4 linked regions of the Homo sapiens genome follow. The protein of the gene in region 3 interacts with the protein of the main gene of each other region in a pairwise test. Each region holds a gene or a part of one and is shown on either strand. Other genes may lie near its edges.

Region 1 (3,500 bases), on a different chromosome or scaffold from region 3:
AAATGTGAACTCAAGTCATTAAATTTAGAGCCTATGCTTTTAAAAATTGAAATCTATTAGAAAATTGTACATGTGTTGTACATAAAAATGACATACACAAGAGTATCTACTAAATGTGGATCAACATTTTAAGGATGAAATACCAAGAAACAAAAAAATGTTAAGATAGCTAGTTTCCATAAGAAATTTTACGTGCAAACTTAAAAAATGTTTTAATTAAAAATTTTACAGTTCTATAAAACTAGAAAAGCTCATGATAGAATATAGTATAATAGTTTGTTAAATTAGTATTTGAACCAGAAATCCAGTTCCAAAAGAAAATATTGCCTTTTCAAATGCCATAAGCTATAGCAATAAGTCATATTTTTAAAAAGCAAGACATGCACATTATTTACATAACAATTTTACTTTGCAAAGTATTAAATTTTGAAACACTAAATTTAGAAACATAGTTAAGCCCAAATTCCTTATTTTACAGGCAATAACTAATAAAACTGATAATGTATTTTGTACTGTTTTTATTTAATGACATTGAGAGTCTACTTAGCTATCACAACATTTATAAGTATCCCAGTATTAGCATTCTTATGCTTAATCTTTGAAACAGTGCATAAAAACACATCTGTACTCTGTACAACTGAAAGGTCAAAATGTTATGATACCAACACTTGTGTTACAGCAGCATACTCTACTGGCACTATTGTGTAGGCAATATGAGAGCTACCTCTTCAAAATCCATTTTTACAGCATTATAAATGTAGCATTCAAGATATTAGTGTCTCTCAATTGCAAAGATGAGTAATCAATATGCAAAAAAGATAAATTTGTAGCTAGATGTTCCTGGTAAGTTTAAAAACAAACCTATGTGAACTCTGTGAATGGATAAACAAAGTGTGGTATAGACCTACAATGGAATAAACTCAGCAATAAAAGAGAACAAACTGGCCAGGCGTGGTGGCTCACACCTGTAATCCCAGCACTTTGGGAGGCCGAGGTGGGTGGATCATGAGGTTGGGAGATCGAGACCATCCTGGCTAACACGGTGAAACCCCGCCTCTACTAAAAATACAAAAAATTAGCCAGGCGTGGTGGCGGGCGCCTATAATCCCAGCTACTTGGGAGGCTGAGGCAGGAGAATGGTGAACCCGAGAGGCAGAGCTTGCAGTGAGCCGAAATTGTGCCACTGCACTCCAGCCTGGGCGACAGAGCAAGACTCCATCTCAAAAAAAAAAAAAAAACAAAAAAACAAGCTATGGGTATACACTCCCAAATGAATGTATCTCAAAACCATGTTGAGCAAAAGAAACCAGATACAAAAGTATACTGTATGCTTCCATTTACATGCAGTTTTAGAAAAGATTAATCTCCAGTGACAGAAGGCAGATTAGTAATTGCCTGAGGCAGAGGCAGGGTAGGGAACTGAGCGAGAAGGGGACCAGGGAAATTTTAGGGGGTGATGGAAATGTTCCATAGCTTGATTGTGGTTATGTAGCAGGACATATTCGGGTAGATTTTATTGTATCTCAATAAAAGTTTATTTTAAATATTTTTAAATGGCACATAAAAGAAAAATAAACAAACTGGTCAATAAGCCAAAGTTCAAAAACATTTAGTCACATAATAGTTCTACTACAGGGAAGAAATTCTACTTACTTCTCAAAAAAAATCACTGTTTATGAGATTTTGCTTTGAATCTTCTCAATGTGTGGAAATACAATTACTACTGCATCAGAATTACTTTCATCTCTGCACAACATGGTTAAAAACTACTGACAGGCAAGAATCATGACAGATACCCGTTTTTACCCAATGCAAGATTCAGTGTAAGGCTGAAACCCCAGCTCAAAGCTTCTTTTCTATAAAGCCTAACTTCATCCTCTGCAATGGAGGGAATATTTCTCCTCTCTAAATCAGTGCAAGACTTGACCTATACCTTTCTTATGCCCTTAAAAGTTTTAAAATCTTACATGATAATCATTTATGTATGCCTCTTCTATCCTATTAGACAAAGTTTCAAATGAAGTCAGAAGGGATGTCTGATGTATCTCCACTAGGTGTTGAACCTAGTAGTGATATTTATTATACATTTTCTCAATTAACATAAATGACTGAAGAATTACTTAAAGTCCTATTGAACAACCAAACATTTAGATACTTTTACAAGTTACTGAAGAAAGCATAAAGTAAACGTTAATAAAAAGAAGTTCTACTTTGGTAATGATAGATGATAATCTGTAAACTGGACCAATTCAACCATGAGAATAAAGTGGACAAAATATGAAACAAAATTTCTCTAATGACATTAGAGAGCTAACAAGGTCATGAAAAACCATGCGACCAAGATATGAGAGAAGAAAACCCACAGTTCAGAATGAGAGGCCACTTTTATCTGAATATAGCCTGACAATTTTCTAAGAGATGGTTAAGAAGATTGAGATGAACTCTCAATAAACTATAGGGAAAAAATAAAGGAGTTGAGAGTTTGCCAAGGATGTGGGATCTGATAAATACCCAAGGCTTTGGGGGATTTGAGGTCTGAAAGAGCTATACCCTAGGAGTAAGGGTGAACTGGAAACATATCAGATTTCAGGGATGAAAGCCCAACTTCAAATAACCTAAATCATTCACTGATTTTAGGTGACCTGGGATTGCTAGTGTACCCGGCCACTAGCCAGAAGAAAATTTTCTGCAGGGAGATAATATTGTAGGCCTAAAATCTTTACTCTTTTTCACAGAAAATGACTGGTATTTTATCTTAAATAACCACACATATGAGGAGGCAAAATAAAAAATTTTTTTTTAAAAGAAAGCAACAGGCAATAAAAACATACCACAAAGGATCCAAATAATGAAGTTTTCAGACATATAATTTAAAGTAACTATACTTAATATATTCAAGGAATTAAGATTGAGAGTTTACTGGAGAACTTGAAACTGAAAAAAAGGAATCAAATTCTAGAACTGAAAAATATAATAAATTGAAATTAAGAATATAATCAAATTTATCAAAAGTTTTATAGAAAACACTTTGTGTCTTGTCTTTTTATACCTCAAGGATTAAAATGTTTACCAACATAGTCTACCAAAAGTTTTTAAAATGTTGATTCACTTTTAAAGCCTTTAATCCATCTTCAGCTGATATTTGTATATGATGTGAGGTAGGGAATCCGACTTAATTAAATAACTATTTTTTTTTCAAGCTTCATTTCTCAAACATTTCCTCCTTTCCTCTTGATATGACATGCCACCTCTGTCATACACTAAAGTCGCATATTTCCTTAGCTCTGTTTCTGGGCTCTCAATTCTTTTTTCAATAATTATACATTTTTATTTTATCTTATAAAAATTGGGTGAATATGTAGATTTAAATTGACAAAACTGTGTATTGAACAGTTTTGTCTTTTATAGCTTAGAAGAAAGATTTTGGGCAAAAATGAAATCTCTCTTTTGGAAATGATTTATTTCTATTTTATAATACTTCTGAGCACTGTTGCAACTTC
Region 2 (3,500 bases), on a different chromosome or scaffold from region 3:
CAAAATCTGGCAGAGACAGAACAAAAAAGGAAAATTTCAGGCCAATATCCCTGATGAACGTCGATGCAAAAATCCTCAATAAAATACAGCAAACTGAATCCAGCAGCATATCAAAAAGCTTATCCACCATGATCAAGTCAGCTTCATCGCTGGAATGCAAGGCTGATTCAACATATGCAAATCAATAAACATAATCCATTACATAAACAGAATCAATGACAAAAACCACATGACTATCTCAATAAAGGCAGAAAAGGCCTTTGATAAAATTCAACACCGCTTCATGCTAAAAACTCTCAATAAACTAGGTATTGATGGGATGTATCTCAAAATAATAAGAGCTATTTACGACAAACCAACAGCCAATATCATACTGAATGGACAAAAGCTGGAAGCATTGTCTTTGAAAACCGGCACAAGACAAGGATGCCCTCTCTCACTACTCCTATTCAACATAGTATTGGAAGTTCTGGCCAGGGCAACAAGGCAAGTGAAAGAAATAAAGGGGATTCAAATAGCAAGAGAGGAAGTCAAATTGTCTCTGTTTGCAGACGACATGATTGTATATTTAGAAAACCCCATCGTCTCAACCCAAAATCTCCTTAAGCTGATAAGCAACTTCAGCAAAGTCTCAAGATACAAAATCAATGTGCAAAAGTCACAAACATTCCTATACATCAATAATAGACAAACAGAGGGCCAAATCTTGAGTGAACTCACATTCACAATTGCTACAAAGAGAATAAAATACCTAGGAATATAACTTATAAGGGATGTGAAGGACTTCTTCAAGGAGAGCTACAAACCACTGTTCAAGGAAATAAGAGAGGACACAAACAAATGGAAAAACATTCCATTGTTATGGATAGGAAGAATCGATATCTTGAAAATGGCCATACAGCTGAAAATAATTTATAGATTCAGTGCTAACCCCATCAAGCTACCATTGACTTTCTTCACAGAATTAGAAAAAATACTTTAAATTACATATGGAACCAAAAAAAGAGCCCATATATCCAAGACAATCCTAAGCCAAAAGAACAAAGCTGGAGGCATCATGCTACCTGACTTCAAACTATACTACAAGGCTTCAGTAACAAAAACAGCATGGTACCGGTACCAAAACAGAGAGATAGACCAATGGAACAGAACAGAGGCCTCAGAAATAATGCCACACATTTACAACTATTGGATCTTTGACAAACCTTACAAAAACAAGCAATGGGGAAAAGATTCCCTGTTTAATAAATAATGCTGGGAAAACTGGCTAGCCATATGCTGAAAACTGAAACTGGACCCCTTCCTTACACTTTATACAAAAATTAACTCAAGATGGATTAAAGACTTAAAGGTAAGACCTAAAACCATAAAAACTCTAGAAGAAAACCTAGGCAATACCATTCAGGACATAGGCATGGGGAAGACTTCATGACTAAAACACCAAAAGCAATAGCAACAAAAGCAAAAATTGACAAATGGGATCTAATTAAACTAAAGAGCTTCTGCACAGCAAAAGAAACTATTATCAGAGTGAACAGGCACCCTACAGAATGGGAGAAAATGTTTGCAATCTATCCATCTGACAAAGGGCTAATACCCAGAATCTACAAAGAATTTAAACAAATTTACAAGAATCAAACAAACAACCCCATCAAAAAGTGGCCAAAGGGTATGAACAGACATTTCTCAAAATAAGACATTAATGCAGCCAACAAACATGAAAAAATGCTCATCATCACTGGTCATTAGAGAAATGCAAATCAAAACCACAATGAGATACCATCTCACGTGAGTTAGAATGGCGATCATCAAAAAGTCAGGAAAAAACAGATGCTGGAGTGGATGTGGAGAAATAGGAACGCTTTTAGATTATTGGTGGGAGTGTAAATTAGTTCAACCAGTGTGGCGCTTCCTCAAGGATCTAGAACTAGAAATACCATTTGACTCAGCAATCCCATTACTGGGTATATACCCAAAGATTATAAATCATTCTACTATAAATACACATGCACACATATGTTTATTGCAGCACTATTCACAATAGCAAAGACTTGGAACCAACCCAAATTGCCCATCAATGATAGACTAGATAATGTGGGACATACGCACCATGGAATACTATGCAGCCATTAAAAAGGATGAGTTCATGTCCTTTGCAGGGACATGGATGAAGCTGGAAACCATCATTCGCAGCAAACTGACACAGAAACAGAAAACCACACACCTCATGTTCTCACTCATAAGTGGGAGTTGAACAGTGAGAACACATGGGAACATCACACACTGGGGCCTGTCAGGGGGTGGGGGGCTAGGGGAGGGATAGCATTAGGAGAAATACCTAATGTAGATAGATGACAGGTTGATGGGTGCAGGAAACCACCATGGCACGTGTATACCTATGTAACAAACCTGCACGTTCTGCACATGTATCCCAGAACTTAAAGTATAATAAAAAAAGAAAACTCTAGAAAAGAAGGAAAACTTATTGTATTTACCATATTTTTGCTTACAATGCTATATCTTCCTTCTTAATATTCCAAATTCTTTCTTTTATGATTTTCTTCTCTTTAGACAACTTCTTTTAGCTATTCTTTAAGGGTAGGTCTGCTAGTAACAAATTATTTTCATTTTCCCTCATCTGAAAATGTGAATTTCCCTCCATTCCTAAAGGATAATTTCACTGCATATAGAATTTACAGTTGACAATTATTTTCTTTTAGTACTTAAAAAATAGTATCCTAGTTCCTTCTGGGCTTCATGATTTGTAATGAGAAATCTGTTGTCATTTGAATTGTTATTCCCAATAATTAATGTTTTTCTTGCTGCTTTGAAAATTTTTAGTTTGTCTTTAGTTTTAAGAAGTTTGACTCTGATTTGTCTGGTAATGGATTTCTTTGGGTTTATATTGTTTGGGATATGCTCAGCTTCTTGAATATGTATGTTACCAGGTTTTACTAATTTGGGAAACTTCTCAGCCATAATTTTTTTGAATATTTTTTCAGCTCCATCCTCTTTCTCCTTTCCTTCCAGGACTCTGAACATGAAAGCTAGATATGTGGTGTACACCCACAAACCCTTAAGCTCTGTTTAATTTTTTCTAATCTATTTGTTTCTGATATTCAGATTATATACTTTATTTTATTCTATCTTTAAGTTCATTAATTCTTTCCTCTGTTCTCTCCATTCTGCTTTTTAGCCCACTCCTTGAGAGCTTTGTTGTTTTGGTTTGGTTTTTGTTTCTTTGTCTTGTTACTGTCCTTTTCAGTTCTAAAATTTCCATTTAGGTATTCTTTATGTCTTCTATTTATTTGCTGAGACTTTCTATTTTGTCATTGAGACAATGTGTTTTTACAGTCTCCTTGCAACTTCTTGTTGAAGTATTTATGATGGTTGTTTTATACACTTTATCAGATAATTCTAACATTTCTATTATCTTGATGTTGTCATCAATTAAGTGTTTTTTCTTATTGGTTGAGATTTTTGTTGTTCTTGGAATTATG
Region 3 (4,270 bases):
GTTCATGATTGCAGGATGACCAAAGTGCAGTCGGAATTGGAAAGCAATATCTGAGTCCTCATCCATCCCAGTGTAGAAATTCACCTCCAGCTGTGGGTCCTTGCTGAGGTCAAAGCACACAGCATGTTGGGCAGGTCCCCCCATTGTGCAGACACACACTCGCCACACACACAAATCCCTTCCCCCCTTTACCCAGGGCAAAAAGTCTCCCCGATGATACTGCAGTCCTGGTCCCTGTGGGGACGCTTTAGCTCCTCATGCCCCCAGGCAGGGAGATGCTGTGTTCCTCATCCCCAGACAAAAACTGAGCGCCAGTCAGTGACATGGGCCTATGACTTGTTCATTTCCTGAAAATTCTATGCCCTTTAATAAAGAGCCACAACCCAAACCCACTGAGTGTTCTCCTCCCCTAGGTTCCGTGGCTGGCCTGCATGCAGTTTCTACAGGTCTCATGTCTGTTGCTGGAAGGTCTCCAGGGCCTGCACTTGCATGAGGCCTTCATTATGCCAACTAGAGTTTTCCACATCACTCACACATAAGGTTAAACCCTTAGCAAATATTCTCCCTTCTCTCCTCCACCCCCTCCATTGGACCATGGAGTACTCACACAAAAGTGAGGATCGGTGTCCCTGTGATTATCACGCACGAACCAACAGGCAAGGAAACAGGCAGTGTGTATGGTACCTGCCAGGGTATGGAGAGTGAGTGAGAGCTAAAGGGTAAGGTGTAACCTCCCCTATGTAACAGATTCCCATGGTGCAGGAGGTTAGAGATCAAAGGTCAGACTCTGAGGCCTCTCCCCTTTCACCCTACCACAGTCAGGGCCCCATATTCCTGAAGATATGGTGGATCCATAGGTAAGAGCAATTGTTCAAGAGCCCGGATGCCTGGATTCCAGTCCTCATTTTGCCTTATACTAGCAGTGCAATCTTAGATCTATTACTTAACCTCTCCCTGCCTCAGTTTCCCCAGGACAAGGAGGACTATCAGGAATTCCTACTTTGTAGGGTGTTCTCAGTAATAGAGGAGTTAATATAGGTAAAACTTTTACCCTAATCCCTGGCATGTATAGGGTCAATTAGGGGTGACCTAACAGAACAGGGGAGTCCTCCTGAAACACTGACCTGCCTTATTTTCAACTCAGAAAATGAAAACAAGACTTGAGGGTGAAAGAATTTAAAAATTCACTCCAGTGAGAAACAACACTTGTTGAAAGAGAAAGGGAAATGACGAAAGAACAGGAAACCCCTGTGTGTGGGATGTACACGCACCACAATCATCAAGGGCAATGGACGTCCTTCCCAGAAGCGGCACACATTACTGACAGCACAGCCCCAGTACTTGCACAAATGAAGCCTGTGGGTCAGGGACATAACTGGAGGGAATGATTGATTTCTACGACGACTGCAAGTGGTTGATGATTTTTCTGTATTTTTGAGATAGGGTCTTGCTCTGTCACCCAGGCTGATATGCAGTGGTGCAATCACAGCTCACTGAAACATCGAACTCCTGGACTGCAGTGATCCTCACACATCTGCCCCCTCTTGTGTAGCTGGGGTGAAAGGTGTCTGCCACTCTGCCAGTCAGATATTTAAAGATTTTTAAAGAAAGCATATCACTATGATGCCTAGACCGGTCTCAAATTTCTGGCCTCAAGTTACCCTCCCATCTTTGCCTCCCAAATTGGTGGGATTATAGTCATGAACCAGTGAACCCAGCTGCTTTGTTGAGTAATGTCCACAGTAAGCACTGTCTGAATTCAGACAGCTTGTTCTTTCATGAGTGGAGGAACAAGTTTAGTCTCAGTTCAGACAGAGCTTACAGTGGATATTTTGTTTGATTCCGTCTCTTTAACCACGGCCTCTAATATTCTTCCCTGGCAAATCAGTATCTTCACACTCGCCTGTTCCACAATGGGAAGAACAGGCTGGGCTAGCGACAGGGAAGCTGAGCCTGGGAGGCAAAAGCCAGTGATCACTCTGTGCAGTCCCCACCTGAGGAACCATCTCTCCCATAATCTGCGTTCCTTTTCCTCACTCTTACTGGGAAGAGATATCTACTGATGATATATTTCGCTCTCATAAGTGATCTGAAACGAGTCCTTGGTAACTCACAATCCCCAAGATCCCCACCAGTTAAGCCACTTGGGATCCACATTGCCACACATGAAAAGACACACAGGTGCTTCATCAGAGGTGCTGCTGTGTGGGGAGGAACCTTCACATGCACAGAAGGCCACGTGCATGTTTTCCCTTCAATACCCAGTCACATCCCAGCACACACACCCATAGTCACACAGAGCCATGCCACTCACTGAGTTACACACACCTGCTCACTGTGCACATAAAGATGACCATGCACTGGTCTGGCTGTGCCCACACACACTCACATCACAGACAGGAAGACAAAGCACACTCACCCCCTTACACTCACTCACACACTTGCCGGTCCTGGTGGGTCATCCACCTCCCACCTAAAGTCACTTAATCTCAGCAGAGTTCACTCTCATCAGACACCACCACACCCTCACAGAGGGTTACACTGGTCCAGGGTCCACAGCCTACACCCACAATCATCTCAGATACCACAGCCTCAGGGTTTCTCTTCTACACACCCACAACTCTCGGTAATGCATTCACAGTAGGAATGCTCATATTTTCAACTCAGAAAACCTCCCCTGTTTCTTTCTTGGTTTATGTGACTTGAGATTATTGAAGGCTGTGACTTTTCAACTCACGGGTAGTGATGACATTGTTCTCTCCTTCTGGGCAGCTCTTCGGAATTGTGTCCAGTCTTCTGTGTGAATCTCTGAGTGGGATCATTTAAATGCTGCAACTCAGAGATGCCCTTTGGCTTCATGCCAGATTCCAAGCCCCTCCCAGCAAGCTTTCCGTGCAGCAGGAGAAAGACTCAGGTGTCAGAAAGAAACTCTGTCACAACCATAGATGTTTGCAGGTCTGTGTCTGTAATGCAGCAGAAATGACAGTGGGGGAGGTACCAGGCTGTGGATTGGGTTACCAGGGAAATGCATAGATAAGGATGATGGAGTGAGGGGTAGGGATTGTAAAGCCCAGCCTTTGTGCCTCTCAAGCTTTTTCTCCAGTATGCAGAATCTAGCCAGAAGGTGTACATTTCCTCAATTTGTACAATGACTAAAAATAAAAAATTGGGAATTTTGGAAAAAGACGTTAGACCTAGAAGGTAATTCTTCTCTTTGCCTTTAAAGGTTCTGGGAGGGCCTTTAAGGGTCAGATCCTTTTGACCTTGATCCTCAGGAGGATCTGGGAAGAGAAGTAGAGATAGTTCTTGCATGAACCTGCCTCACACTAGGCCCCTTGGATCTGCCAGGTGAGGGTCACTCTCATCTGTCTGTCACATACCTGGGCTCTAGCTGCATTCTCTGCTTTGTCTTGGAGTCCATGTAAAACAAAGTTTCAGAGATATTGTTTCTCCTGCAGATTCTGGGAGAAAGATGAGATTTTTTTTCTTTTTTCTTTTTTTTTACTTTTATTATAGGTTCAGGGGTACATATGCAGATAAAGTCATGTCATGAGGTTTGTGGTACATATGATTTCTTCACCTGGGTACTAAGCGTAGTACCCAATAGTTATTTTCTCTGCTCCTATCTCACCTTTCACCCTCCAACCTCAAGTAGGCTTCTGTGTGTGTTGTTCCCCTATTGGTGTCCATGAGTCTCATCATTTAGTTCACAATTATAAGTGAGAACATGCAGTATTTGGTTTTCTGTTCCTGCATTAGTTTGCTAAAAATAATGGCCTCCAGCTCCATCCATGTTCCTGCAAAAGACATGAACTCATTCTTTTTTAGGGCTTCATAGTATTCCATTGTGTATATGTATCACATTATCTGTATCCAATCTGTCCTTGATGGCATTTGGGTTCATTCTGTGTCTTTGCTATTGTGCACAGTGTTGCAATGAACATTCATATGCATATGTCTTTAAGGCAGAATAATTTCTATTCTTCTGTGTATACAGTAGTGTATACACCATTCCCAGTAATGGGATTGCGGGGTTTAATGGTAGTTCTGTTATAAGCTCTTTGAGGAATCACCACACTGCTTTCCACAATGGGTGAGCTAATTTACACCACCGCCAATAATCTGTAAGTGCTCCTTTTTCTCCACACCCTTGCCAGCATCTGTCCTTTTTTGACTTTTTAAGAAGAGCCATTCTGACTGGTGTGAGATGGTATCTCATTGTAGTTTTGATTTGCATTTCTCTAATGTTCAGTGATATTGAGCTTTTATT
Region 4 (3,008 bases), on a different chromosome or scaffold from region 3:
CTTCTACACATGGACCCTCAGACCTTGCACATCTGTTGTTTCCCTTGCAGGGCAGTGATGATGACATGAAATGAGGTGGGGTCACTCCTGTTTAGGGATGAGACTGGGGCCCAGGGAGGGGCAGGTGTGAAGTTGCTGAGGGCAGAGGGAGACCCAGGGCTACCTGCTCCTAATGACCAGCCTCACGTTCTCCACTGCTCACTCCCTGCTGTTCACCAGCTGCATGACCTTGAGCAGTGCACTCAACTGTAAACAGAGGTGAAAACACTCCTTTACCAACTGTTTTAGGGGCCACTCTTGTTTGAGGCCTTGAACCTCCTTTCAGTTCCGTGGTGGTCCTGAGCCTCTGAATCTGGGTATGGCCCCTGCTGGGTCCTGGTCTCTTAGGCAGCACGATGGCCTCCCTGCTCAAGGCCCTGCACCCAGGGGCAGATTGTGGGAGGCCCACTGGCCATGGCTGGGCCCTATCGCAGAGAGCCTGTCAGCACGGCCATTTCCACACCCAGGCTGGCTGGGAAGCAAGCTACGAGGTGCTCAAAGGCCCTCTATGTCTGCAGGTAGCCCCGTCCCACACAGGCGAGGATCGTTGGGCCTCCTTAGTAGCCAAAGGAACTGAGGTCCAGAGCAGGGAATGTGTTGCCCAGTGTCAGCATGGTCTGCTCTGGGGTCAGGCGTCTTGCCCTGGTCCTAAGCCACCCCAAGCCAAGGCATGTCCCTGGGCCCATTTCCTCTCTCGAGGTCTTGGGTTCCCTATTTCTGATGTGTGTGAAAGGAAGGCCTGTCCTCTGGGGTGACCATGAGGCTCAGTGGGAGGAGCTGCCAGGCTTGAGCTGGGACTTGGCACCTGGCCAGCCTTTTTTCTATTTCATTGTACCTTGATGGGCTGTCAGTTCTGAAGAGAAAAAATACACTAGGAATCCATTCTTCCTCCACCATTCTCCCTGGCAGAGGGAAGTGACTACACCCCTATGGTGTGGACATACTGACGCTCCTCCATGAAGCAGCAAAGTTCTGTTGTTTCAGGAGACTGTGGGCCTTGAGGATGTGGTAGTGACCTCACCAGAGGAGTTGGCAATTCCTAAGTGCTGCCTGGAGGCCTCTACAGAGACATAATGTTGGAGAACTTCTGCCACATGGCAGTGCTGGGTAAGACCCCTCTGTCCCCACCAGTGCCCTTGAGGTTATGGGTGTTGGTAGGTCTGTGGCCTCCATCTCCATGACGATGGTGTTAAGGACTGCATGTTTGTGTCCCCCCCCAAAGTTTATATGTTGAAACCCTGACCCCCAGGAGGGTGGTATTAGGAGGTGGGGCCTTTGGGAGGTGACTAGGCTTAGGTGAGATCGTGAGGGTGGGGCTCGCCGATGAGATCGAGTCCTTATAAGAAAAGGAAGGAACTAGAGCGAGGTCACTTTGTGCTGTGTGAGCATACAAGAAAACTGCCATCTTCAAGCTGGGTGCAGTGGCTCACGCCTGTAATCCCAGCACTGGAAGGCCAAGGCATTAGGATTGCATGAGTCCAGGAGTTCGAGACCAGCCTAGGCATGATAAGACCTTATTGCTAAAAAAAAAAAAAAAGGAAATAAAATAGAAAATTGCCATCTGCAAATGAGAAAGCCTTCAGCCGACACCAGACTGCCAGTGCCTTTGATATTGGACTTTCAGTCCCCAGATCTGTGAAAAATTAATTTATGTTGTTTAAGACACCTAGCCTGTGGTATTTTGTTATCGCAATCAAAACTGACTGAGACAGGCAGTAAGGAGAGAACAGAGGTTCCAGCCTGCTTCAGGTCCAGGCAGTTCTGCCATTGCCCCTAACTCCTCAGTGCCAGTCATGGGCCAGGCCCCTGGGGGACTTGGAATGAGTAAAACATGCACCTATTGTTAAGGTTCACCTGGTCCAGAAGGGGAGGCAGACCCACCTGCCCACCATGACCCGGACAGAGGCAATAAATACGGAGCACCTCATGGCCAGGGCCTGGAGGATTCCCACCATACCCTACCCAGCGCCAATAACAGAGGGACCCTGGAGTTGTGTACGCAAGATAGCAGTTCAGTGCTTGCACACATACTAGTTGAGAAGGGAAATCAGGGCTAATGAAACAGCTCAACTGTCTGGCAGAGCCAGGCTCCTTCTGCCATGATACAGTTTGGATGTTTGTCCCTTTCTAATCTTATATGGAAATTTGATCCCCAGTGTTGAAGGTGGGGCCTGGTGGGAAATGTTCCTGTTATCGGGATGGATCCTTCATGAATAGCCTGGTGCCATCTTTGTGGTAACAAGTGAGTTCTCACTTGATTAGTTTCTGTGAGAACTGTTTGTTAAAAAGAGCCTGGTGGCACCTCCCTCCCTTCTTCCTCCTGCTCTTGCTATGTGATGCTGCTGCCCTTTGCCTTCCGTCATGAGTGGAAGCTCCCTGAAGCCCCCACCAGAAGCAAATGCTGGCACCATGCTGCTTGTACAGCCTGCAGAACTGTGAGCCAAATAAACCTCTTTTCTTTATAAATTACTCAGCCTCAGGTGTTACTTTATAACCATGCAAACAGACCAAGACATGCCATGTGTATTTCATGAAGGGAGCCACAGGGTTGAAGATGTTACAGGACACCTGCTCTAATCCCCACCACTGTGTCTGCCTCCCCACCACTGTGTCTGCCTCCAGAAAGCACACCACTTCTGCTCCTGTCCCTCGAGCCAGGTCCCAGTCATATGAGTACAACTAGTTACAAGGGGTCTGGGTAGCATGATTGTAGAGGATGGGTGAGTGAGTATAGGACTCATCTAGCAGTGCAAGTCAGCCCAGGCCTTGTGCCTTCATGCCCTCTCCAGCAATTATGTCTGAGCTCCTCCAGTTTCTGTAAGGAGAGAGCAGAGTTTCCAGCCTGCTTCAGGTCCGTGAAGTTCTGTGTGCTGCGCGGATGTGGCAGTGACTTCACTAGAGGAGTTGGCAATTCCTAAGCCCTCCCCAGAGGCTTCCACAGAGACATAATGTTGGAGAACTTCTGCCTC

Evidence for each region. Proteins that work in one complex are often made in the same cells at the same time.
Region 1: the proteins of LGALS14 (region 3) and REL interact in binary tests that used the Homo sapiens proteins (3 or more experiments, as listed by UniProt).
Region 2: the proteins of LGALS14 (region 3) and POF1B interact in binary tests that used the Homo sapiens proteins (3 or more experiments, as listed by UniProt).
Region 4: the proteins of LGALS14 (region 3) and JRK interact in binary tests that used the Homo sapiens proteins (3 or more experiments, as listed by UniProt).

What each region holds. Positions count from the first base shown.
Region 1 is NC_000002.12:60,912,574-60,916,073, reverse strand, and holds part of REL (proto-oncogene c-Rel), read right to left. Parts: intron 1-3,500. UniProt on the Homo sapiens protein: Proto-oncogene that may play a role in differentiation and lymphopoiesis.
Region 2 is NC_000023.11:85,310,166-85,313,665, reverse strand, and holds part of POF1B (protein POF1B), read left to right. Parts: intron 1-3,500. UniProt on the Homo sapiens protein: Plays a key role in the organization of epithelial monolayers by regulating the actin cytoskeleton. May be involved in ovary development.
Region 3 is NC_000019.10:39,703,011-39,707,280, reverse strand, and holds the start of LGALS14 (placental protein 13-like), read right to left. Parts: upstream 2,801-4,270; 5' UTR 2,753-2,800; coding exon 2,738-2,752; intron 1,577-2,737; exon of another isoform or gene 1,374-1,576; coding exon of another isoform or gene 1,272-1,373; intron 685-1,271; coding exon 608-684; intron 104-607; coding exon 1-103.
Region 4 is NC_000008.11:142,656,960-142,659,967, reverse strand, and holds the end of JRK (jerky protein homolog), read left to right. Parts: 3' UTR 1-1,023; coding exon of another isoform or gene 1,024-1,113; 3' UTR 1,114-2,508; downstream 2,509-3,008. UniProt on the Homo sapiens protein: May bind DNA.